2 linked regions of the Homo sapiens genome follow. The protein of the gene in region 1 interacts with the protein of each later gene in a pairwise test. Each region holds a gene or a part of one and is shown on either strand. Other genes may lie near its edges.

Region 1 (5,392 bases):
ATGAACTATAGCCAGAGGAATCAATACAGTTTAATCAGTAGAGTTAAAAAAAAGTTGCAATAGAATATATATGAGACCATTTTTTAAAAAAAGTTTCATTTAAAAAGCAAAATTAAACAATATATGATTTAATTAATCAATATTTAAACATCTTGTTTAATTAATCAATATTATTTAATTAAACATCTTGTTTAATCAATATATTGATTCACAGTATGTGATTAAAGTATTTTAAAAAGCAGAGAATGAGAATAAACACCGGGAGAATGGTAACCTCTAGGGGTTGGGGTAGGTAAGAACTTTATCTGGTTGAGGAGAAGAGATGAGGAGGAAGGAGAAGGAGAAGTCAGAGAGTTTCCAAGCCAGCGAGATGGACTGGATGTCCATTGCTGGTAGGGAGATGAAGGGAGCCGGGTACAAGGAAGAGAGGACTCCAAGGTTCAGGGCAGCCCCAGCTGATGGCCAGCAAGGGAACAGGGACCTCAGTCCTGCACATACAAGGACCTGGACTCTGCCATCAAGCTGAATTTGCTTTAAGCTGATTCTACCCTAGTCTCCCAATCAGAGCCCTGGAAGGCTGACACCTTGATACTGGCCTTGTTAGACCCAGAGCAGAGAAACCAGACAAGCCAATCTGGACTTCTGATGTACAGGTACTGTGAGGTCATAAATTTATGTTGTTTCAGGCCATTAAGTCTGTGGTAATTGGTTACCACAATAGAAAATGAATTATTTATGGATTTTTTTTTACCTTTATTGATTTACTTTTCCTGGTATATTTTGCTGTTCCCTTATAGTTACCTAAGTAAATAGCTTATGTATTTTAAGTTTTCTTTCCAAAAAATATAATAAAAGCATTTAAGCCTATATTCCTCTGGGAACCATTTTAATTAAACCCCAAAGATTTTTATTTATTTATTTTTTTGAGATCAGGGTCTGGCTCTGTTGCCCAGGCTGGAGTGCAATGGTATAATCTCAGCTTACTGTAACCTCTGCCTCCTGGTCTCAAGGGAGCTGTGCACCTCATCATCCCAAGTAGCCAGGACAACAGGTGTGCACCACCCTGCCCAGCTAATTTTTGTGTTTTTGTTTTAGAGATGAGGTTCCGCCATGTTGCCCAAGCTGATCTCAAACGTCTGGGCTTAAGCGATCCACTGGTCTCAGCTTTTCAAAGTGCTGGGATCACAGGAGTGAGCAGTGCACTATGCCCAGCCAGGACCCACAGATTTTTAAATAGGTATTCTCTTTATTGCTAATTGTTAGATCAGTCTCTCTCTTGATTTCTCTCTCTCTCGATCTCTCTCTCTGTCTTTCCTTTATTTGTAGAGACAGTCTCCCTATGTTGCCCAGTCTGGTCTTGAACTTCGGAGCTCAAATGATCCTCCCACCTCGGCCTTCGAAAATGCTGGAATTATAGGCATGAGCCAGCATGCCCAGCCTGATATTTCTTAATTTTACATATTAAGATATAGAGCAGAGTATAAGTTGGTTTTTAGAGAATCCAGATTAAAAGTCATATCCAGTATAAGAAATCTTTATTTCTTATTATTTTGTTCTGTGAATTCTGCAATTCTGGTGCTCTCTGAGGGGAAAATAGTTATAATAGAAACAAATGTAAAGAATGTTTAGAAAACATTTACAGTCACTGGGCGCGGTGGCTCACACCTGTAATCCTAGCACTTTGGGAGGCTGAGGCAGGCGGATCACCTGAGGTCAGGAGTTCAAGACTAGCCTGGCCAACATGGTGAAACCCCATCTCTACTAAAATACAAAAATTAGCCTGGCACGATGGTGGGTACCTGTAATCCCAGCTACTTGGGAGGCTGAAACAGGAGAATCACTTGAACCCTGGAGACAGTGGTTGCAGTGAGCCAAGATCGCAGCACTGCACTCCAGCCTGGGTGGCTAAGCGAGACTCTGTCTCAAAAAAAAAAAAAAAAAAAAAGAAAAGAAAACATTTACAGTCTCTGAATTGTTTTTATAACTTGCTTGTAAATACACTGAAATACTGACCTGTAACAAATAGCATATGACAGCTATCAGTCCAACCCAGCTGTGCAGACTGTACATATTGGCTATATTGTTAACATTGTGGTTCTCAAACACGGCCACCACAGAGATAATTGCAAGAATGGCAGCAACTGCATTTAACCCTGCATGGATGGATTTCATCAGGAGCTTGCTGCATTTCCAGGTCCACGGCAGTCTGTAGACGATGATGGCTAGGGAAAGACGAAAGGACACAGAATGTGTTTTGTTTTGTTTTTTAAACAACACAAAATGAACAGTTTGACACACTGGACACTCCCTTTTTGAAACCTTTTTCCCTTGGCTTTTGCTTCTCCCCTCTTCCCCATGTTACCCCTGCCTCTCAGTGGCTCCCTCTAGGGGACGGTGGAGGAGTTCCTTTGCTGGCATTTTCTTCACTCCCAACTTGTGAATGAACCTTGGTGCCTCTCAGGCTCGGTCCTAGGGCTTTTTCTCCCTCTGCACTCCCTCTTGTGGGTGATCTCATTCACTCTTTCACTGAAATGCTGTCTCCATGGCAGGGACTCCAAAAAATTTATATCTCCAGCCCAGAACTGTCTTCTAAGCTTCAGATCTGCATAATCCAATGTCTTCTTGGTATTTCCGTACGGCGTTTGCTTCCCAGACATCTCAAACTTATCCAAAACCAAATTCCTAATCTTAACAATCTGATTTATGCCTGTTGTCTCCTTTCTTCTTAAAAATGTCTCAGTTTGGCCGGGCCCAGTGGCTCATGCCTGTAATCCCAGCACTTTGAGAGGCTGAGGCGGGGTATCACTTGAGGTCAGCAGTTCAAGACCAGCCTGGCCAACATGGTGAAACCCCATCTCTACTAAAAATACAAAAATTAGCCAGGCATGGGGTGGCATGCACATGTAATCCCAGCTATTCTGGAGGCTGAGGCACGAGAATCGCTTGAACCCGGGAGGCAGAGGTTGCAGTGAGCCGAGATTGCGCCACTGCACTCCAGCCTGGGCAACAGAGGAAGACAAAAAAAAAAAAAAAAGTCTTAGTTTGATAAGAAAAAGAAAGGAACAGAAAAACATGCAAATTTAAACCATGCAATAGAGAAATACAAATTTAAGCCGAATGAGAATACCTCTACCACATATCTGAATGGCTAAACCTGGAAAACACCAAGTATCAAAATGAATATACAGCAGTCAGAACTCTAATGTTCTGCTGATGAGTGCTTTAATGAGAACAAAACTTTGGAAAACTGGCAGTATCTACTTAAGGTAAAGTTATGCATACCTTATTGTCCAGCAATTTCACTCTCGGGTATATGCCAAAAAGAAATATTTATATGATCATCAAAAGATACTAGAATATTATTAGCAGTACTATTTATAGTAACCAAAACCTGGAAACTCCCCCAAATGCCCATCATCAATAGAATGAATAAATAAATTTACACCATGGAAAGAAACGATCTACAACTAGAACTAGACCCAGTAATATGGATCAACCTATAATGTCAATCTCAAGAAGCCAGACGTTAACAAGTATATAGTGTAATTCAATTTATATGAAGTATAGAAACCAGCAAAACTCATCTCTGCATTGGAAAAGTCAGGATAGTAGTTGCCTTCGTGGGGAAGGATACAGCAATTACAATGGAACACACAAGGGATTTTGAAGACTCCTACTAACATTCTGTTTCTCAATCTAGGTGCTGGTTTCACAGGTGTCATAGACAGAAGATTCATCATTCTGCATGTAGAACAAACTCCAATTAAGTTTTTTATGGCCTGGCGCGGTGGCTCACGCCTGTAATCCCAACACTTTGGGAGGCCGAGGTGGGCAGATCACTTGAGGTCAGGAGTTCAAGACCAGCCTGACCAACATGGTGAAACCCTGTCTCTACTAAAAATACAAAAAAATTAGCCAGGCATTGTGGTGCATACCTGTAATCTCAGCTATTTGGGAGGCTGAGGCAGGAGAATCGCTTGAACCTGGGAGGCAGAGGTTGCAGTGAGCTGAGATCATGCCACTGCACTCCAGCCTGGGTGACAGAGCAAGACTCCGTCTCGGGGAAAAAAAAAAAAAGAAAACAAAAGTTTTTTTACAAAGGGTTGTCTTAAGTGTCCTGGTTTAAGCAATAAATTATATGGCCACCTTAACCAACATTCAGTTAATTTTTGTTCTGAAGATAAAATCCTGCCCCTATCCATCCCTCCAGTCTGTGTCAGGGAAAATTTAGATATCTGGAAATGTGTGGCAGATTGAAAAAGTTTATAGAATACTTCCTCAGACGATGGATTCCACTATATCAGCAGGGTATCACGTATATTTCTTTTCTTTTCTTTCTCTGTCACCCAGGCTGGAATGTAGTGTTGCGATCACAGCTCACTGCAGCCTTGACCTCCTGGGACCAGGTGATCCTCCCACCTCAGTCTCCTGAGTAGCTGGGGCTGCAGGCATGCACCACCACACGCTGCTATTTTTTCTATTTTTAGCAGAGATGGGATTCCATCATGTTGCCCAGGCTGGTCTTGAACTCCTGGGCTCAAGTGCACCACCCGCCTCAGCATCCCAAAGTGCTGGGATTACAGGCATGAACTACAGTGCCTGGCCTCATGTACATTTCTTAATTCCAGAAAATAAAAAGGAGCCTCACTTCACCAAAGGCTTTTATAATTTTAATATATAAAACTTCAGGCCAGGCGCAGTGGCTCACTGCGCTCAGTGAGCCACTCGGTGCTGTAATTTCAGCACTTTGGGAGGCCAAGGCAGGTGGATCACCTGAGGTCAGGAGTTCGAGACAAGCCTGGCCAACATAATGAAGCCCAGTCTCTACTAAAGATACAGAAATTAGCCGGGCGTGGTGGTAGGCACCTGTAATCCCAGCTACTTGGGAGGCTGAGGCAGGAGAATCGCTTGAACTCGGGAGGCGGAGGTTGCAGTAAACCAAGACCGCACCATTGCACTCCAGCCTGGGCAACAGAATGAGACTCTGTCTCAAAAAACAAACAAACAAACACCCAAGAACTTCATAGGATTATAAAAATATAAGGGATTATCTATTCCTTTTTCAGACAGAAACACATCTAAACCTACAAAGACCGATGTGAATTCAGCCTCTTTAAAGCTTTCAGCACAGGATGTCATTTTTCCTATTCTTTGGTTCCATTCTAACACTTAACAGTCCTCACCATTAGGACAATATTTCTTTTACTTAATCCCAACCCTGAAGGACTGCTACTTACTAAATTTAGTGTGTATATGGGTATCCTATGAATGTCGATTGGTTATACTTCCTTGAGAACGTGGAGACTTTTTGGATAATCATTTCTATATTCAAGGAATCTTTTCAAATGATTTAATGCAATACCTTAAAAAGTACACTTTTAAAGCAAACTCA
Region 2 (4,445 bases), on another chromosome or scaffold:
CTGTGAGAATTAAAGGAGGTAATGTATGTAAACCAACACTATTTGGAAACCAGTGAGAAAATGAGGCATGAAAGGAGTCAATGAGAAAATGAGCCTGTTGACTGCCCAGCACCTGTAGTACTTGCATTTTAGGCTTTTACTGCCAATTGAAGGGGTCATTTCATTCATTTCTACAAGAGACTGTAACTAGTGGTATGCTAAATATAAACTTTAGAGGCATAATTATTTGCAAGGGTCTCTAAATGTGCTGGGTAACGGAAACACAGCAGCATACCCAAAACCTGTAACCTGTGCTAAATTAATACTTTTTTTGTCACACAAGTAATTACTTGTACCTGTCTTTACAGATAGGATAAAGGACTCGGTTTCATTAGAGGAAGATGAACTATATGATAGCAAAACTACCTACCCTCATGAATTTTGAGCAGTAGTTCTTCTGCTTTAAGATCATTAAAGCATTTCACTTCAAATCCTAGATCTGAAAACCTAGTGGTATATTAAATGAAATGTTAGCCTATAAACTTTTCAAAGTTGTCAAATACCCTTACTTTGGAAGAATCTATACACATTTTAACGACACATAAATTTGCTTTCTTTAGGAGAAAAGAAATGAAATATAACAATGGTGGTTTTCCCTTCATTCACCATGGTCGGAAAGGATTTAATCATAATGACAGCCGATTCAATTTAGAGTGTTGTTGTCTACTATGCAAATGTTAGTACAAATGCAAAAGCCTGTCAACATTTAATAGAACAGAGTAAGGAAAATAACTCAGGCAAGTTTTTTTTTTTTTTTTTTTTTTGAGACAGAGGCTCACTCTGTCGCCCAGGCTGGAGTGCAGTGGCTTGATCTTGGCTCACTGCAAGCTCCGCCTCCTGGCTTCATGCCATTCTCCTGCCTCAGCCTCCCGAGTAGCTGGGACTACAGGCTCCCACCACCACGCCCGGCTAATTTTTTGTATTTTTTAGGAGAGACAGGGTTTCACCATGTTAGCCAGGATGGTCTCAATCTCCTGACCTTATGATCCACCCGCCTCAGCCTCCCAAAGTGCCGGGATTACAGGAGTGAGCCACCATGCCCGGCCAACTCAGGCAAGTTCTTAAGGGAGGCTGCATCAAAGCAAGGCCCATGCTCCAACACTCTTGATCTGTTGTTACCTCATTAGTGTTGACAAGTTATGATAAGTAACTTTTCCCTACATCTAGAAGTCTGGAATTTTTTTAATTTTTAATTTTTTTTAACTTTTCATTTGGAAACATGGAAAAAAATTATTTTATTTTTTATTTTAGAGACAAGGTCTCACTCTGTTGCCCAGCCTGGAGTGCAGTGGCATGATCACAGCTCCGTGCAGCCTTGAACTCCTGGGATCAAGCAATCCTCCCCCTTCAGCCTCCAGAGTAGCTGGGACTACCGCCACCATGCCCAGCTAATTGATTTTTATTTTTTGTAGAGACCAGGTCTCACTCTGTTGCCCAGACTTGTCTCAAACTCCTTGCCTTAAGTGATCCTCCCACCTTGGCTTCCCAAAGTGCTGGGATTACCAGCATGAACCACCACACCTGGCCAAAAGTAATTTTATCACTTAACTGCCTCATCTTGATAGGTAGATAAAACTACTACCTGCGGGTAAGATTGTCTCTATCTGCGCAGGTGCCCCGCCTTTCTGGCAGTGTTAAGTGCCAAAAGAACCTCTCATGATTGAAGATTAAAGCAATTCCTCTCCTCCTGTGGTCCATTTTGTACTTTTCTGCCGGATCAAACATTTCTCTGTTAATGAAAAGTTGAAAAACAATCACTTCAAGTCATATTAAATAATGAGCCCCTCCAAGTTCTAGGTCAACATGTAGATAGAGATCTGAGCTTCCTCCTTGCCAGGCTGATGTTCCATGGGTGTGCTCCAGGAAAGGCCATGCTAATAAGGAAAGTCCTGAAATATCTCTCTGCCAATTGGTAAAGAGCAGCCATGTGCCATCCTGACACATCCCTAACCCTCTGCCTTGATGTCTTTCCCCTGGCCCCCAGGATCCAGCAACCAGGAATAACCACGAGGCTCAGAACCAAGTTCTAGCTCTAGGCTCATGCCATGCCAATTAATATGCATTCTGAACATCACTCCGGGTCCCTCGACAACCAGGGGCAGCACAACCTGCCTATCTACAAATGAGCTCCCCAAAGGCTAAAACTTGGCCTACTCAGTTTTACTTCCTAGCTCCCAGGACCCATTCTTGCTTTGATTTCTGTAGGCTGATCATGACCATCAAAGGAAGAGACCTTTATTAGAAAAGAGCACAGCTTTACCTTTTATAGAAGGCATCTGTTTCTGTCATGTTTTCTTCCCCACCTATTAAAAAAAGTTGATTTTTGTTAATTATTTTTTACTTATGGCAGTAAAATATAGTAGGAACTCCCATCCCCCTTCTGACTCCCAAACTCTTAAGACCCTTCTGTTTTGGTTAGTTTAAAAGCCAAAGTATGTGAAGAAAAGGAAATGAAGGGAAACTGCTTACTAATAAACAAACTATAACAGCTCTATGCTTTCTCACCCCCAACTTGACCTGCAAAATAACAATCTTATAAACAGAAATGGAGAAAATATTACACAAATGCATTCACTGCAAAATATGCCTAGAGTAACAGTTCTGTGATTACGGAGTTGAAATATGAAGTTGCTTTGTTATGCAGAAAATGTTTTTGCACATTTTCTGAAAAAGAATTAAGTCCTACAGGAAAACTGAAATATAGTTTGTGGTTAATGCTGGATTAGCAGTGGTGTAAGCCTGGAAGAGGTAGAAGTTTGGGTGGAGGAAGGGAAGGGCAAGGGCAAAGACTTGGACCTTGGATCTCCTGCATGACACATCTGCATTTCCAACCCTGTAAGGGGAGCCCTCTGCTCTCCATTCTCAACTGGACTCCCTACTCCCTGGACAGCCTTCCACTGAATTCCTCTCTACTCTCTAGAGCAGTGCTATGTCATGGAAGTGTCTGTGATGGTGGAATTGTTCCGTATTTGCACTGTCTCATAAGGTAGCCACTGGCCACATGTGTCTACTGAGCATTTAAATGCAGCTAATGCAACTGAGGAACTCGATTTTATTGTCAATTTAAATGAATTGGCCAGTGGCTTCTACACTGGACAGTGCAAAGTGTGGCATCTTCTACAATAAAGGCCCCATCCACTCATGCATCTGTTTTTACCTGATAGCTCAACAGCTTAGAGGGGAGACAGCAATGAATAAACTGAAATATTAGCAGTATAGCAAGATGCACCCTTCAGTTGAGGAAGAATGACCCTAAAGCATGGACTCTTACCCATCATCTCCTAGCCAAAAGGGTTGGTTCCCCTCTCCTTAGAGATCTCCCCATTACTAGCCCCCATCACCTGATTGATCTAACCTCACTTCTCCTCAAAAAAAATACAAGGTGGGGAATTCAGTTCAAGTCCCTTTTAGCCTATTCCTCCTGGAACTGCCCCAAGCAATGAGACCCAACTAAGACCCCACACTAAGGCATCCTCTGTCTGTACGCCCTAAGTCAGTTTTGCTCAACCTTGGGCATCAGAATTCCTGGTGTGCATGTTAAAATGCAGATTCCTGGATCCTAACTGAGGCAGAATCAGAATCTTGGAGGAAGGAGGTGACAGCTGCATTTTTCACAAAGTGATTTTTACACTAAGGTGTGAGAGCCAAAAGCAACCTCTCCAACTGGTCCTCCCCGCTGCATGGCAGATGAGAAAGCTGTTTAATCCGACCTTTGCCCTAGGTGAGCACAGTAACGAGGTACTTCCTACTCCACACACTGCTCTATGAAGACAGCACAGGGATTTCACTCTTCCCATTTTCAAAAGCTGTCGGAATCTACTGCCTTTTGATAACCTCACCTGCTTATCTTTTAACCAATTAGAGTATAAAGAAACAATAACTTCAAGAAAATTAAATCCATATGTCACAACCATCCTCCTCACATGCCAAAATTCTGCACAACTTGGAAAGCACTCATGTCTCAGTGTCCTCCTCGGTGGCAGCAGGCCAGCGGCTCACCTCCTGTGGCTTCTGCTCCATACTGACTGCTGAGCCGAAGGCGGCTCACAACCTAACTCATGGAAGCTGTGCCAAATGGCTGCTCAGCAAACTAACTCATATCCCTCAGGGTGAAAACACTGGAGATGTATTCTTGCTTGGGTCTTTAAAACTCTTGTTTCTCATATTGCCAAAGAAGTAGCTTCCCAGTTGTTAGCTGACACATTAAAATTAATAACTTAAGATGTGAGTTTGGGTTGTCTCAAATATGCCCTCACATTAGTCAAGACCTACAGGTTTAGGAATGGCTAACTAGTATTAAGTAGCTGCTCAAGAAAATCTGTTTAAAATGACGTTCTGGCCGGGCATAGTGGCAAGCCTATAGTCCCGGTTACCTGGAAGGCCAAGGCAGGAGGATCTCTTGAGCC

What was found.
Region 2: the proteins of CYBRD1 (region 1) and CASP6 interact in binary tests that used the Homo sapiens proteins (3 or more experiments, as listed by UniProt).

What each region holds. Positions count from the first base shown.
Region 1 is NC_000002.12:171,538,415-171,543,806, reverse strand, and holds part of CYBRD1 (plasma membrane ascorbate-dependent reductase CYBRD1), read right to left. Parts: intron 2,223-5,392; coding exon 2,014-2,222; intron 1-2,013. UniProt on the Homo sapiens protein: Plasma membrane reductase that uses cytoplasmic ascorbate as an electron donor to reduce extracellular Fe(3+) into Fe(2+).
Region 2 is NC_000004.12:109,696,001-109,700,445, forward strand, and holds part of CASP6 (caspase-6 isoform alpha precursor), read right to left. Parts: intron 2,343-4,445; coding exon 2,300-2,342; intron 1,769-2,299; coding exon 1,622-1,768; intron 487-1,621; coding exon 410-486; intron 1-409.